Linked DNA regions of Homo sapiens. The protein of the gene in region 1 purifies or fractionates together with the protein of each later gene. This does not show direct contact. Each region holds a gene or a part of one and is shown in the gene's direction. Other genes may lie near its edges.

Region 1 (7,914 bases):
GCTTGACAGTGTTAAGTTGCTGGTGTTGGATTTTCTTGGAGTTAATGTTTCTCCTTTTTTGTGTGTGTGGTTTAAGCCAGCAGCCACTGGGTCTCTCCCTCCCCATGTAATTTTTTATTTTAATTGAGATGGAGTCTTACTCTGTTGCCCAGGCTAGAGTGCAGTGGCGCAATCTCAGCTCACTGCAACCTCCGCCTCCTAAATTCAAGCAATTCTCCTGCCTCAGCCTCCCAAGTAGCTGGGATTACAGGCGCGCGCCATCACGCTTGGCTAATTTTTTTGTATTTTTTAGTAGAGACAGGGGTTTCGCCAGTTGCCCAGGCTGGTCTCGACTCCTGAGGTGATCAGCCCCCTTCGGCCTCCCAAAGTGCTGGGATTACAGGCGTGAGCCACCGCGCCCGGCCCCTCCCCATGTAATTTGATTGCATTCCAGAGAAGACAGACTTTCTTCCTGGGCTGCTTAGGCACCCAGCAACCACTAAACCAACTTTCTGAGTCCCACATCATTTACAAACAAAACCTACGTCTTCAAAACAAAACAAAAAACAAAAGCTGGGGGACTGGGGAAGCAGATGTTTTAATTGGCTCCTTTTGGAGTTCCTTCTTCTCCCCACTCCGTCCTCTCCACAACATCCCATCTCCATGCCTTGCCTGCCTTTGGAAAAAGGGGAAGAAGGAGTGTGAGGTACTTATTATTAATAAGTAAATTTCTGGAAAGAAACAAATTGCTCCTAGCTTGGGTGGCTATTTAGTGAAGTTACTTGCCATTGCGGGTTTTTTTTTTCTTTTTTTAGCATTCTGTTCTCTGAGGTTTAAGGCTGTCTGGGTGCGTTGATGATTCAAAAGTAATTACAGTAGGGGAAGTAGAACAAAGTTGCTGAAAGCATTGATGATAAAAGCACCAAAATTGGATCATCTTCCCAGACAGATGGGTGAAATGGCTTTCTGGTACAGCAAGGACAGGATTGTGTGTAACATCAAAAAGAAAAAAGAAATGTTAATATCAGCTTGGCAAGAATGGCTGTTGATTGCAGCTCTATATGAGATTGTCACCCCATTGCTAAGAGGTTGTGACCTTGGCTTTGGGATTAGATGGGGGAAAGCCAAGGAAACAAGACCCACGCTGTAACCTCCCAACGTGAAATGAGACCTGGTGGAGGCAGCCTCTTCCGGAGCTCAGTGACCCACACGCCTTTTGGAGGAATCAGAGATTTTTTTGTTGTCCATGAATCCTGATGCCCCTTCCTCTCGATGATGCCCTGGATTACCTTCTCACATGCCGAACTGGACAGGTTCTGATAGCTAATTGCAAGGATTCTTCTGAGAGACTGACCATCTCTGAAAATTACGATGTGGCAAGTTTTCAGGATGGCTAGCTCTTTTGTTATCCGCATAAGGGAGAAATTCTGCCTTATTCCCTCAAAAAGTTGTTCAGACACCGTTCACTGTAGATGTAGGCAAGCCTTTAACTTGAAAAGCTTAGACATGAATCTTGCTGGAGCTTCCTTCCATAGCTTGCTATGCAGGGGGCGGGAAGCCTGCATGTTTATAGCTGGCTCCTCCTCCTGCCCTGCTGGTGCCTCTCACCTTCCTTTGCCTACCCTGGGTCTTGGCCTCTTTGTGCTCTCACAGTGACTGCTGAGGCTCCCTCCTGCATCTCCTTTGGAGTTTTTCCCCCATCTTTGGGTAAGGGTTGCAGCCTGCGTGGTGACTTAAGCTTGTGTTTGCTCCTGTCCCCAAAATTGCAGAGGAGCGCTGATAAATCAGCAACAAAGTTTGTAAATGCCTAACATCTGGGGCTGGGGGTTTGCAGTTGACTTGCAGAGCTTTCCACTGAGCAGCACTGGAATTGCTGTGAAAAATCCCTCGGAGGATGGCAGAGGTGGGGGTGTTCCTTTGTCCTCTCTTCTCAACCGTAGAGGTCTTAAAGAAACTGGGTAGCAGAGAGGTGTCATTTCATCCTTTCCATGGGACCTTCCAAATCCCTTATCATGGATTTTGTTAAAATGGTAAATACTAAAGAAGTCACATTTCTAGCCAACGTGAATTGATGCTCCCAACCTGTGAAGAATTAAAGTGTTTGTAAATAAGCATGGAAAAGAAAGACAATATGTAAATATATATGGGATTGTGTGTATGTGTGTACATATCAATACATAGCTTCCCTTCCAATTCCTCCTACAATTTTTTTTTTCTGCTAGCTTTTGGGTAATTTGGGGTATTGTCTTTTATTCCCATCATGGTAAGTTTGGTTCTTAGATTGGACAGAGTGGGGACCAGGGTCAGGGATGGTGGTTAAAGTTTACATTGTTACTTCAAAGCATTGTTTCTGAAGCAAAATTGCTTCAGGCCTGGGTTCAAATACCTTCTTTTCCTATTTGCAATGAGACTTGATAAATCACTTTAGTATTCTGAGTAACTTATCTATAAAGTAGTAATAATGATATCTACCCTTCTATTATACTTGGTACTTAGTAGGTGCTTGATAAATATTAATGTCCTCCCTCTTTACATAGTTAGACTACTCTGTTCGCCCTCCTCCATTCCCCCAAGGACACAGTGTAAACAGCACGTAGTCTTGTGGGTTTTATTTTTCAAGACAGGTGGCCGGGGGTCAGAGGGGACACTGATTGTGGGGGCTTGGGCCTTCTGGAAGGATCAACCTCTTAGGCTTACAAACAGCCTTGCTGCACAGACCCCTTCTTTGTGTCATGTGACTTGGGATGTGATTTGTTATCTGCCTGGGCTGTGGGACTTTGGCCATTCTGTCTGGTGCCTGGGCATCTGGGGGTGGGAGAAGGCCAGGCATGTGCCCCCTGTGAGTCTCTAAAGTCTAAACTTCCTTAGAGGTTCTCAAATATGGATATAACGAATATTCAGGACAACTGTATGCTACATTCTCTCACTGTCTGCTTTGAGAGTTAATGAATTCAGAGAGATTGAGGTTTCTTTTAGGTAATTTTAATAAGAGGGGGAAAAAGAAAATGGGGTTTGAAGAGAAATAGATGTTCTTAAGCTATTTGTTTGCTCCTGTGGTTTTGGGGTACAACATTGAGAAAGTACAAAAGCAGCATTGATCTGCTTTTCATCTTGTCTTAGTCTGGCCAGCTCTGGGAAGCATGGAATTAACTCGCTTGTCTTTGGGACGTGGGATTGGGTGTGGCCCTGACATATTTCCCTCACTTTTCTGAAATGGAGTAGTAGTTCTGAACTGGGATGCAGATGAGCACATTAACACGCAAATCTTACAAAGAAAGTACTAGAAATTAAAGTGGATAAGTTGACGACTTAAAACTGGAAGCATCTCTGGACCAGAGACCAAATAGAATGGAGTTTCTTTGTCTGGCAAAATGCCCAGCCCTTCAGGTCTGAGTATGCCTGCACCAGGATCTGTTATCACAGGGTACTCCAGTGAGCGCCACAGCCTCCCTCTAGGCAAAAGTGTGTATGCCCTGTTTTATGTTAGCTATTCTAGGAGTTAGCCTTGAACCTGATCTCTGAGTGGATCTGACATTTCCATTTCCCTCCTAGGTGCTCTAGTCCTTCCCCCACCCCCATCCCCCCAAATCAGACTTTGCTCTTACTCTCTTTTTATTCTATACCTTCTTTTATTTCTTGCCACAGCTTTTTCCATCCTCTTGAATTTGCACTTTCCCATCTGCATTGTTCCCAGGGAACAAATATGGCCCCAATCCCAGTGAGAGCCAAGCAGACTCATGGAAAGGCTCAAATTGCCTGCGGAAGGCTTCCTGGATAGTAGATCCCAGCTTTTCTGTTCCCGCAGCAGAATAGAGCTAGGACCCCTCTTTCACAGGAACAGGGGCCTGCAGGTAGAGACAGCAGACCCAGGTTTTCTGACTCACGTCACATAGAACTACCCCTAGAGAAGAAAACTGGATCCTAGGCATGAGTCCTCTAAGGCTTGCAGAAACACTGAGCCAGTCAGGTACGGTGGGGAGAGGGGCCAAGGGGACTTTGGCTGAATTGCCTTCTAGCCCTGGGTTAGTCAGAGACCCTGGCAACCGGTAGATACTGGCTCTCAGCCAGGGACACACATCAGAGTCTCCTGTGACACTTGCTAAAAATACAGACCCCCCACCTGGGATCTGCTGAATCAGCGCATGGGCAGGTGGGTCAGGCATGCATGTGTTCCAAATGCTCCTTGTGGCTCTGACAGGTGCCCCTGGAGAAGAGCCAGGTAGGCACAGCAGTGGCCCCAACTGCCTGTTTTGCCCCGAGCAGGAAAATTCCTCTTGGTGGTCCCGTTTTACTGTATGTTAAAGATCTGTGGCTCTTCAAGGGGAGTCCTAAAGTTTTCAGAGTAAATGGACAGAGTAATGATCCATCCTTGTTTACCCAGTAATGGTTACAGCCAATATTTATAGAGTACTTGCCATAGGCAAGGTACTATTCCTAGCATTTTATATCTCGTATCTCACTTAGTTCTCCTGACAACTTTTCCTTTCCAATAAGAGGAATTAACCTCACTTTACAGATAAGGAAAACTTTCACAGGGAGAGGGAAGGACTTTGCCCAAGGGTACATGGCTAGTGTCAGCCAGACATTTGCATTGTCTGGCATTTCACTTTTTTTTTTGAGATGGAGTCTTGCTCTGTCGCCCAGGCTGGAGTGCAGTGGCGCGATCTCGATCTCAGCTCACTGCAAGCTCCACCTCCTGGGTCTATGCCATTCTCCTGGCTCAGCCTCCTGAGTAGCTGGGACTACAGGCGCCCGCCACCACGCCCGGCTAATTTTTTGTATTTTTAGTAGAGACGCGGTTTCACTGTGTTAGCCAGGATGGTCTTGATCTCCTGACCTCATGATCCGCCCGCCTTGGCCTCCCAAAGTGCTGGGATTACAGGCTTGAGCCACCGTGCCCGGCCTAACATTTCACCTTTTAGAGTGCTTTTGAGTTCATGATTCAGGTGCATGCTTCAGGTGAAGCCACCTTTTAAGGGACCATGCAGGGGAAACCTTTCCAGATTGGCTTATGAGGAAACTGAACCCCAGAGAATTGTGCCCTAGCAAGGCCACGGAACTGTTGAAAAGCTGAACTGGAGCAAGAGCTGGGTTTCCTGACTTCTAGATCAGTACTTTCTCAAGTGGACTCACCTATACGGCTTGGCTGGTCATAGGTGAAGCTGAGGGGTGTGGGGGGAGCAGCAGAATGTCCCTGGAGATGGGTGCCTCCCTGGCAGACTCCTTCCATTCCTTCTGCAGAGGCCAGCCATATGAAGGAGGAACTGGTTGGCCAGCCTCAATGAGTGTGTATGTGTGTGTGCGACTGATTCGTTTTTGTGGAGTCCCGGAAAACATCATTTCCGGTTTGGCCCTGTTACTACCTCTGAAATGAGTTAGAAGAAATCTCTATGGTCCCTTTAATGTGAACATTTTGAGATGGAGACTGAGGTAAGAGTATGAAAGTACTTTGCACTTAATGAGTAGCAGTTGACACTTACAAAGCTTTTGTTAGGACCAGGACACTCCCTGAGCTCCCTGCAATTCTGACACTGAGAAATAGGTAGTCTTCCCATTTTGCAGATGAAGAAACTGAGGCCCATGGCTGCATACCTTACACATGGCAGAGCCTAGATTCGAACTCAAGTCTGGGTGCCTTGTGTCACCACTGTATTTTTCCCTGGTCAGAACAGATACCCTTGCTTTGTCCTGTGTCCTCACTGCTTTCTCCAGCTCACGTTTGTATCAACCTAAAGCAGGCCTACATACCTGGAAGGGAAAGAAGCAGTGGATTCTTCCTAGGCTTCAACTATATCTAAGCATTCCAGGAGTCAAGGGCACAGCACTAAGGCAGGAACTTGAAACACTCACTGAGAGGTTGTCTGTGTGTAGCCCCTCCCACAGGGGCTTGTTATACACCTCCTTAGGGGGAAGGAGGGGTAACTCCAGGTAGGCAAGTGTGGTTTCCAATCCCTCACAATGATACCTTTGCTCTGGCTGGTGCTACATAGGGCAGGGTCTCCTGCTGAGGCAGGGGCAGGATCCAGTCCTTTGAGTTTTCTTGGATGGCATCTCAGGCTTGTCCCTGCTGCCCTGTGGGCTATTAGATCACTTCCTGACATCCCTCAAGAGTCCTCTGGAGTGGGGCTTGCAGGGCTGAGCCTGCAGCTGACTTGTCTATGAGGAAACGCCTCCTCTGTCTCTGGTCCAGGATCTGCTACTTATGGAGGCCCACCCCAACCCAGCACGTTTTTAAAGTACGTTGGAGCTGCCCAGGAGGGTGTTTTGGCAATACCTCCTTTAGAGGCTGATTCTGAAATCAGCGTGCTTTAGAACTGCCAGAAATCCCCTGCTCCCAAAACTGAGTCCTCTTACCTCTCTAGCTGAGGTCAGAGAACAGATTGCTGAAGGGGCAGAGACAAGAAAGTGTGTGACCTGTGACCCTCGCCCCACAGGTGGCATTAAGGACTCAGGTCTGAAAGAAGAGACAGCCATATAGGGAGCTCTCCTGCCCAGGGAAAGGGAACTAATGGAGACACTGGCTTAGGTAGAGCTGCCCCAGTTGCTGGTGCAGAGAGGGCACCAGCATACAACATGCTGGTATGGGCCAAACAGCATGGCTAAAACTGCTTTTTAATTTTTTAAATTTTATTTATTTATTTATTTATTTTGAGACAGAGTTTTGCTCTGTCCCCCAGGCTGGAGTGCAATGGTGTGATCTCGGCTCACTGCAACCTCCACCTCTTGGATTCAAGTGATTCTCGTGCCTCAGCCTCCGGAGTAGCTGGGATTACAGGAGCTCACTACCATACCCTGCTAATTTTTGCATTTTTAGTAAAGATGGGGTTTCACCATATTGGTCATGCTGGTCTCGAACTTCTGACCTTAAGTGATCCCCACTGCCTTTGCCCCCCAAAGTGTTAAAACTGCTTTTTTCAAAAAATGCCCATGCAGTTAGATACACAGCTACTTTTTGGAACTTCGGGAGCCGGTGCTAAGCTGGGTCCGGCCCTGCCTTGCTTGTTAGCTGTAGAGAACAGTGTCAGTGGCCAGGCATGAAAGCAGTACACCCTCCCCATTGTTTGCAGTCTTTTGTGTGTGGGGGCTGTCTAGGCATCTCACCCTCTTTTGTTCCCTGCCGACTCACCTGCTGGTCCCAGGAGCTCTTCCGTCCACCTGGCACTTTAGGGCATGTCCATAGCCAAGGAACAGATGCCCCTTGCAGAGGACCTGGGAGGACTTCTCTCCATGGGGGAGTCCCAGTCAAATGTGTCTTGGCTGCAGGGTTCAGGCAGCCGTCCAAGAAGGGCCGGAAATGCTCCAAATACTCTCCTTCCTCCAATAGCTGAGAGGAAGGAGGCCCCTCAGAGGGGCCATTTTATAGTGATAGCCAGGCTAAGGCTAAGTCCTTTGCTGTGGGGGATGGGAGGTGGTGGGGAAGGAAGTACTTCTGGGGATGAACCAAAAAAGAAAGCAACTTTCTACCTGAATGGGCTTGTTAAAATCTGATTGTCTCAGAGGTTACCTTCTGCTGAATCGCAGGCAGATGTGTGAGGAGTTCCTTTGCTGGGACACAAAGCTGTGTTGTTGACAAAAGTGGTATCTGGACCTGACTTTCAGGAGAAGATTAAAAACAGTGTTGCCCTGGTCACTCTGGTCTTCGTTTGTGTGTATGTGTGCACGTGTTCACGTGTTTGTACATGTACACTTTTTTTTTTTAAAGACAAAATCTCACTCTGTCACCCAGGCTGGAGTGCAGTGGTGCAATCACGGCTTACCGCAGCCTCAAACTCCTGGGCTCCGGTGATTCTCCCACTTCAGCCTGCCAAGCTGGGACTGCAGGTGCACCTGGCTAATTTTTTTTTGGTAGAACAGGATTTTGCCATGTTGCTCAGGCTGGTCTTGAACTCCTGAGCTGCAGTGATCCAACCGGCCCAGCTTCCCAAAGTGCTGGGA
Region 2 (7,914 bases), on another chromosome or scaffold:
GTCTGTATGTATGCAGGTATGCATCTGTGTGAGCGTGCCTAGCTCTGTGACATGGGTAAAGCCCTAGCTTGAGTGCTGGTGAGGAAATGAAGGAAATGGCCACCTGGCCCTACCTGGGAGGGCCTCAGGCTAGAGGGAACACATAGCCCCAAGGTCAGGACCCTCAGTGCCTGAGATGTGGCCTTGCCTGGGAGCCCCAGGTAGGGGGAGTCCACCCAATCCTCAGAGAATCAACTCATGCACTCAGGAAATGACTCAGGAACAGTGAAAAGCTCCCCAAGAACAAGTTGAAAGGGATCTTGGTCCTTAATCATAGCAAGGATTTGGTAACCTTGGTTACCTGCAATGAGTCAGGAAAAGACTCCAAGGGAAGGGAGTGGGGGAGGCATTGTCACAGGAGGAAGAAGGGCCTCTATCCCAAATTCGATGAATGTTCTGAGTCCACATCTCTCTCTTCTCCCCACCTTCCCCCAGGAGCGCTATGAAGCAGCCATCCAACGGTCAGTGAAGAAGACGTGGGCCGAAATCCGGCAGCAGCGCTGGTCCTGGGCAGGGGCCCTGCACCACAGCTCTCCAGGACATAAGACCAGTGAGTAGGCTGGAGGGGCTGGGGAGTGGGTGGGCAAGGCTGGGATGGCAAGTAAGGGAAGGGAACAACTTCCCTACAAAAAGCTGGTGGCTCCCTGCAGCAGGTGTGCCTTGCTTTATGTGACTTGTGTCTTCTAGAATGGTCTGTAAGCCAAACTGTCCCTTCCCAAGGACTTCCACTATCAAATCAGAGATGGATTCTCTCCATTTGGTTTGCTCTTCAAACCTCTGTCATTTTAGGATTAGCCTTCTTTGCGCCTGTCAATTATTATTAGTTGTTGATACATAAAAGACTTTAATGACCTACAGACACTGGATCTTAAAGAAACTGTCACTCCTTGTCTCGGAAGGTAGATTTTTGTCTCTGAGTTTTCTCCGCGTAGGGCCACCATGGATTTTGGTCTGATTCTTTGCTGGCATGTATGTACCACTGTGCTTGGATGTCTTTATGCAATGGCAAGTTTCAGTATTTCTAGCTGTGTATCTTCTGTTTATGTGCTCCTGGACCCGTGCATTGTGTGTCTTAATATGTGTTTGCCTTGGCGTGTTTGTGACCTTGTGTACCTCAGTGAGGGCTCCTAAGTCAGACAGACTTGGGTTCCAGCTCTGGCACTTGCAGCGTAACCTTTAACTTCTCGAAGTCTCACTTTCTTCATCTATAAACTGGGGATAGTGATACTACTTGCCCCTGAGGTGGTAGATAGATGTTTGAAGGATCAAATGAGGTCACATGTGTGTGGTGCCCCACACAGTACCTGGCACATGGTAAGCATCAACAAATGTGAGCTGCTACAAATGTCATGATGAGGTTGCTTCGATCTGTTTGTGGCTTGTGTGCATCTGGGTCTGACACACTATCTGTTAGTGTTTGTGTCTCTGTCCCTGTGCATGTCTGCACACATGTGTGCATGCCGAAGTATCTGCCACTCTATATGCCTGTGTCTGCATGTCTTTTTGTGATTCTGGATGAACACGTGGATTTGTGCAAGTGACTGTGACTGTGTAGGTCCTGTTTAGGAGGGTTTTTGCATTTATCCCAGTACGGGGGTGTTGTATCCAAACGTCTTGGCTGGGCAGTGTCAGCAAGTGCTAATGCTGGGTGGTTATGGGGAGGGGTTGCAGTACTCAGCCGTAAGGAATGGCTTCCTTGGTCTGGCCAGGAAAGCTGTAGTTTCTCTAGTTTTACTCATCTCCTCCCTTTGTTCCTTCTCCGTCGGCTCCCCCAACCCAGGTTGTCTCTGGTCACCTACCCCCCCACCCTCCCTCTCCCAGGGCCAAGGCTGCCTCCTGCTCCTCATCCTAGCCTGCCCACTCCTCCCTCTCCCACCCCGCCCTCGGAGCATCCTGCATGGAAGGCCTCGGTGCCCCCCACTGGCTCCTGCCGGGCCCGGCCCTAATGCCGTGTCTTTTCCCCCTCCAGGTGGGAGCAGGTGCTCCGTGTCGGCAGTTAACCTGCCCAAACACGTGGACTCTATAATCAACAAGCGGCTCTCAAAGTCCTCTGCCACGCTCTGGAACTCCCCCAGTAGAAGTAAGAGAAGGCCCAGCCCTTCCCCCTCCAGAGCCCCTTGTAGCTCCCACCAAGCCTCCTCCAGAGCTCAGCAAGAACACCAGGTCCCTGGAGCCCTCACATACTCCAGGTCCCCATCCCCACTCTACCTTACCCAGGGCTCTGTGCCCCTCGGGGGAGCCGGCATATGGGTCTGGACCCTGAGGACAGAGGTTGCCCTGTAGGAGAGGAGAACAGAGACAAAGCACAATGCCGCAGAGGGCAGGAAGCCTGGCAGGAGCCTCAAGAGCAAGTTGGAGGTGGTGGCTGGGGGTGGGGACAGGCAGGCAGCCTTTTCTGCAACCACAGCCAGCTGGTCTGGGCCAACCTTAGCCAGGTGGCATTGTCCCCATGTGTCAGACTGGCCTGGGTGCTGTGGGGTGGAGGGGTCCCTCATTCTGGCTCCACCCTAGAGGGCCCATGCAATCCTGCCCTCTCTGTCTTCAGAGCCCCAGTCATGGCCTTGGCTGGTCCCAGAGTTGAGCCAACCAAGGTGGCATAGCCCCTGCATTCCCACCATGCCCTGGTGCTCATATGTGAAGGAGCCATGGTGGGAGTTATTTATAAGTTTCTCTTGCATTTGTTTGGCTGCTTTGTTGCCTAGCAACCAAATCAGCTGCTGTACCAACCCCACCTGACTGAGGCTTAAAAATAGCCCAGCAGCTGAGGGGACAGAGCAGGGTGGCCTAGGGCAGGCAGGCACCCTAGCAGCCTCTCCCTGGCACAGGACTGCTAAAAGCTGGGTCAGAGGAGCACAAGGACCCTCACTGTCCTGAATCCATGGGACAGCCTCGGCTGGGTCAGCCCTCTGACAGCAGGAGGGGCAAGACCTTACACTGGGACATGGCAGAGGGCAATTGGGTTTTCTTCCAATCCTGGATGGCTCCTTCCTATATGCGCCGTTCAGGGCCCCTTCACCTGGGGAGCGTTGTAGGCGGGGACCCTCATCCGATGCAGGATGTTGCCCTGGGAAGTGTCTGGTTGCCTGGGTCTGTAGTGGAAGTCCAGATCATAGGGAGGACAAGTGTGGCCCCGGTGTGATTGTGGGGAGAGGACTCCCGGGTGAGAAGCCTTGGCCTTGGCATGGGGATGGTGCCTGGTCTGCTCCCTTGCCTCTTCCTGCCTCCTACGGCCCCCACGGTGACCGGCTTCGCCTGGCCTTCTACCCCCAGATCGCAGCCTGCAGCTGAGCGCATGGGAGAGCAGCATCGTGGATCGTCTGATGACGCCCACTCTCTCCTTCCTTGCTCGGAGTCGCAGCGCGGTCACACTGCCCCGCAACGGCCGGGACCAGGGTAGGGGCTGCGACCCTGGGAGAGGCCCCACGTGGGGCCGGGCAGGGGCCAGCCTGGCGCGCGGGCCGCAACCCGACCGCACTCATCCCTCTGCAGCCGTGCCGGTGTGCCCGCGCTCGGCCTCCGCCAGCCCCCTGACGCCGTGCAGCGTCACCCGAAGCGTGCACCGCTGCGCCCCCGCCGGTGAGCGCGGGGAGCGCCGCAAGCCCAACGCCGGGGGCAGCCCCGCTCCGGTGCGCCGCCGGCCGGAGGCCTCGCCGGTGAGTGGCTCTACTGGCTCGAGTGGCCGCGCAGGTGGGGACAGGCAGCCTGGAACTGGGGTACGCGGGCGCTGCTGACCTCTACTCTCCTCTTCCGTTCCTCCTTCCCTGCCAGGTGCAGAAAAAGGAGAAGAAGGACAAGGAGCGGGAAAACGAGAAGGAGAAGAGTGCCCTAGCCCGGGAGCGCAGCCTCAAGAAGCGCCAGTCGCTGCCCGCCTCCCCACGTGCCCGCCTCTCTGCCAGCACCGCCTCTGAGCTCAGGTGGGCGCGGGCGGTGCGAGGGACCCTGCCCCTCACCGGGTCATTTATTCATCACCCACAAATATTTGTTGGGCAACCACCTCTAGAATGCAACTTCCCTGAGGGCAGATTCTCTCTGTTTTGTTTGAGACAGGATCTCCCTCTGTCACCCAGGCTGGAGTGCAGTGGCACAATCTCGGCTCACTGCAGCCTTGACCTCCCAGGCTCAGGCTATCCTCCCACCTCAGCCTTCCAAGTGGCTGGGGCTACAGGCGCGCCACCACGCTCGGCTAATTTTTTGTATTTTTGGTAGAGTGGGGGTTTCGCTACGTTGTCCAGGCTGATCTTGAACTCTTGAGCTTAGGTGATCCACCCGCCTTGGCCTCCCAAAGTGCTGGGATTACATGTGTGAGTGTAAGCCACCCCGCCCAGCCTCCATTTTTCTTTTTGTTCGTTTTTGTTTTTGTTTTTTTAAGTGTTTTGGTTACTGAAGTACCCCAACACCTAAAATAGTGCCTGGCACCTGGTAACCACTCAGTGAATACCTACTGAAGGGCCAGGGTAGTGCCTCACGCCCGTAATCCCAGCACTTTGGGAGGCCAAGGGGAGGATTGCTTGAGCCCAGGAGGTCGAGGCTGTAGTGAGCTATGTATGATGATGCCACTGCACTCCAGCCTGGGGGTCAGCCAGATTCTGTCTTAAAAACAACAACAACAACAACAACAAAACCTGCTGAATGAATGGACCTGTCAGGTAGCACTCAGGGTGCTGAGGACACGTTGCTGAGCTAACCCAAGCATGGTTTTTTCTCTTATTAAGCTTACAGGCTATTGGCGGGGGACATACAATAATCAAAGAATCCCACAGAAACATGTCATTACAAACTGGGGTGTATGCTCTAAAAGGGAATGGTGTGTTTCTGTGAGAGCAAGGGGGCGGGGGGCGGCGCTGATGTAGCCTGGGGGAGGGGGCACCTCCCAGAGGAAGGAACAAGTTCTCAGCGTGTGGGTGTGTGTGTCTCCTAACCCTTCCCTTTTCCCTTTTCTCTTAGCCCCAAATCCAAGGCCAGGCCATCCTCTCCCTCCACATCCTGGCACAGGCCTGCCTCCCCCTGCCCCAGCCCAGGGCCAGGCCACACTCTGCCTCCAAAGCCACCGTCCCCCCGAGGCACCACTGCATCCCCCAAGGGGCGGGTTCGGAGGAAGGAGGAGGCAAAGGAGAGCCCCAGCGCCGCAGGGCCCGAGGACAAGAGCCAGAGCAAGCGCAGGGCCAGTAACGAGAAGGAGTCAGCAGCCCCAGCCTCACCGGCACCTTCGCCGGCGCCCTCGCCCACCCCAGCCCCGCCCCAGAAGGAGCAGCCCCCCGCGGAGACCCCTACAGGTAGGAATGAAGAGAGGGGAGGGGTGGGCCGAGCGAGAGAAGCCAGCTTCTCCTGTGTGGGGGTGTGGGCCGCCAGAGATGCCTGAGGACTGGGAGTGGGACATGGAAAGAGGAGACTCCTGCCCTCAGCAGTCCCAGGCCCAGAACACAGGCCGCTGGGAGATGACGGCGGTGTCTGCGTGGGTGTGCTGACGCCTGATCCCGGATCCCCCTCCAGACGCTGCTGTCTTGACCTCACCCCCAGCCCCTGCTCCCCCGGTGACCCCTAGCAAACCAATGGCCGGCACCACAGACCGAGAAGAAGCCACTCGGCTCTTGGCTGAGAAGCGGCGCCAGGCCCGGGAGCAGCGGGAGCGCGAGGAGCAGGAGCGGAGGCTGCAGGCAGAAAGGGACAAGTGAGTGCGCCTCGGGGACTGAGGGGGCCCTCGTGGGCGCTGGAGAAGAAGCAGAGGCCGAGCCTGAGCCGTTTGCTCCGTCCCCCAGGCGAATGCGAGAGGAGCAGCTGGCACGGGAGGCCGAGGCCCGGGCGGAGCGGGAGGCGGAGGCCCGGAGGCGGGAGGAGCAGGAGGCACGAGAGAAGGCGCAGGCCGAGCAGGAGGAGCAGGAGCGGCTGCAGAAGCAGGTGCCCCCGGCGGGCGGGAAGCGGCTGGGCGCGGGCGCCGCGGGCCGGGAGGGAAGGCTGGAGTCAAGTGCCCCACGCTCATGGGGGTCTTTGGCAGAAAGAGGAGGCCGAAGCTCGGTCGCGGGAAGAGGCGGAGCGGCAGCGTCTGGAGCGGGAAAAGCACTTCCAGCAGCAGGAGCAAGAGCGGCAAGAGCGCAGAAAGGTGTGCGGACCTGGGCGGGGATTTGTGGGCGGGGCCTGGGCAGGGCGGGCCAGGTGGGCGGGGCCTGGGCTTAGAGCGGACAGGACGGGAAAGCGCTGGGGCAAATTCCAGTTCCTGTCCTGGAGAGGGCTGCTATGAGCTGGGAGGCCCTAAGACTCCGAGGCCGGGTCTGGCTGGTGGGAGGTTTAGGATTAGGGGCGGGGCTCGAGCCTAACTGATCTGCGGCCTCCAAACAGCGTCTGGAGGAGATCATGAAGAGGACTCGGAAGTCAGAAGTTTCTGAAACCAAGGTCAGAATTCCCCCGAAGGGCAGTGCTGGGCGTGGGGGGCAGGGTGTGAAAAGGAGGCTGCGGAAAGGCATCCATGGCCACGGAGAGCGAGGCTGTCAGGGAGGCCGCTGCGGCCCGGGCAAGGGGAGGGCCGAACTCAGTCCGAAGTGGCTGGGGCCGGCTGTCCCTTGAGCCTGACTGCTCTTCCTCTTCAAAGCAGAAGCAGGACAGCAAGGAGGCCAACGCCAACGGTTCCAGCCCAGGTAAAGCCCCCATTCCTCTCGCCTCCCTTCCCTTTGCCATCCTCCTCCTCCTCCATCCTCACCTCTCTTGCCAGCCCCTGGCTGATGGCCCCTCTTTCCCTGTGACAGAGCCTGTGAAAGCTGTGGAGGCTCGGTCCCCAGGGCTGCAGAAGGAGGCTGTGCAGAAAGAGGAGCCCATCCCACAGGAGCCTCAGTGGAGGTACCAGCTTCCAATCCCAGGGTCCCTGAGCAGGGAGGCAGACTGCAGCTGGAGCTGCGGGGTGGCCTGGGCTTTCCTGGGAGGTGAGGTGCTGAGCCTTGGCCTCTGCATCCACAGTCTCCCAAGCAAGGAGTTGCCAGCGTCCCTGGTGAATGGCCTGCAGCCTCTCCCAGCACACCAGGAGAATGGCTTCTCCACCAACGGACCCTCTGGGGACAAGAGTCTGAGCCGAACACCAGAGACACTCCTGCCCTTTGCAGAGGCAGAAGCCTTCCTCAAGAAAGCTGTGGTGCAGTCCCCGCAGGTCACAGGTAGATCTCCTGATTCCTGGACCCAGCTCCATTCCTCCCAGCAGCCTTCCCTGTACTCCTCAGCCCTGCCTTCTCTTCTGGCTCTGCCAGGCACCCTCTCCTGCTCCACCCTGAAGACCCCCAGCTATCTGGGCTTGAGTGCTGTTTGCCCTGACTGTTTCCCTTCCTGTTTTTCCCCAGAAGTCCTTTAAGAGGGTTTGCCTTGGATCCGGGCACAGTTGTGAGGGCTCCTCTGCATCACCTACCAGGATGTCTGGAGGAGAAAAAGACAGAACAAAGATGGAAGTGGCCTGGGCCCCTGGGGGTGGGTCCTCTCTGTTGTTTTTAATCTGCACCTTATAGACTGATGTCTCTTTGGCCGGAGCCAGATCTGCCCCTCAGTGCATTCGTGTGCTCGCACGCGCAGACATCCCTTCTCCCCCATACACACATATACACTCACAGCCTCTCTGGCCTCTTCCCTTGGGGAGGGGCCACCTGTAGTATTTGCCTTGATTTGGTGGGGTACAGTGGATGTGAATACTGTAAATAGCTTGTGCTCAGACTCCTCTGCGTGGAGAGGGTGGGTGCAGGAGGCAGACCCTCCCCCCAAAGCCCCCTGGGGAGATCTTCCTCTCTCTATTTAACTGTAACTGAGGGGGATCCCAGGTCTGGGGATGGGGGACACCTTGGGCCACAGGATACTGGTTGCTTCAGGGGTACCCATGCCCCCTGCCCTCGCCTGGAATCAGTGTTA

Evidence for each region.
Region 2: the proteins of CTDSP2 (region 1) and MAP7D1 purify together in Homo sapiens (affinity purification with mass spectrometry; 3 studies listed by BioGRID and IntAct, with this or other methods). This does not show direct contact.

What each region holds. Positions count from the first base shown.
Region 1 is NC_000012.12:57,836,406-57,844,319, reverse strand, and holds part of CTDSP2 (carboxy-terminal domain RNA polymerase II polypeptide A small phosphatase 2), read left to right. Parts: intron 1-558; exon of another isoform or gene 559-2,061; intron 2,062-7,105; exon of another isoform or gene 7,106-7,229; intron 7,230-7,914. UniProt on the Homo sapiens protein: Preferentially catalyzes the dephosphorylation of 'Ser-5' within the tandem 7 residue repeats in the C-terminal domain (CTD) of the largest RNA polymerase II subunit POLR2A.
Region 2 is NC_000001.11:36,172,890-36,180,803, forward strand, and holds part of MAP7D1 (MAP7 domain-containing protein 1), read left to right. Parts: intron 1-474; coding exon 475-589; intron 590-2,008; coding exon 2,009-2,119; intron 2,120-3,309; coding exon 3,310-3,692; intron 3,693-3,807; coding exon 3,808-3,953; intron 3,954-4,983; coding exon 4,984-5,312; intron 5,313-5,529; coding exon 5,530-5,707; intron 5,708-5,795; coding exon 5,796-5,934; intron 5,935-6,031; coding exon 6,032-6,136; intron 6,137-6,372; coding exon 6,373-6,426; intron 6,427-6,622; coding exon of another isoform or gene 6,623-6,625; coding exon 6,626-6,668; intron 6,669-6,776; coding exon 6,777-6,867; intron 6,868-6,984; coding exon 6,985-7,178; intron 7,179-7,358; coding exon 7,359-7,369; 3' UTR 7,370-7,914. UniProt on the Homo sapiens protein: Microtubule-stabilizing protein involved in the control of cell motility and neurite outgrowth. Facilitate microtubule stabilization through the maintenance of acetylated stable microtubules.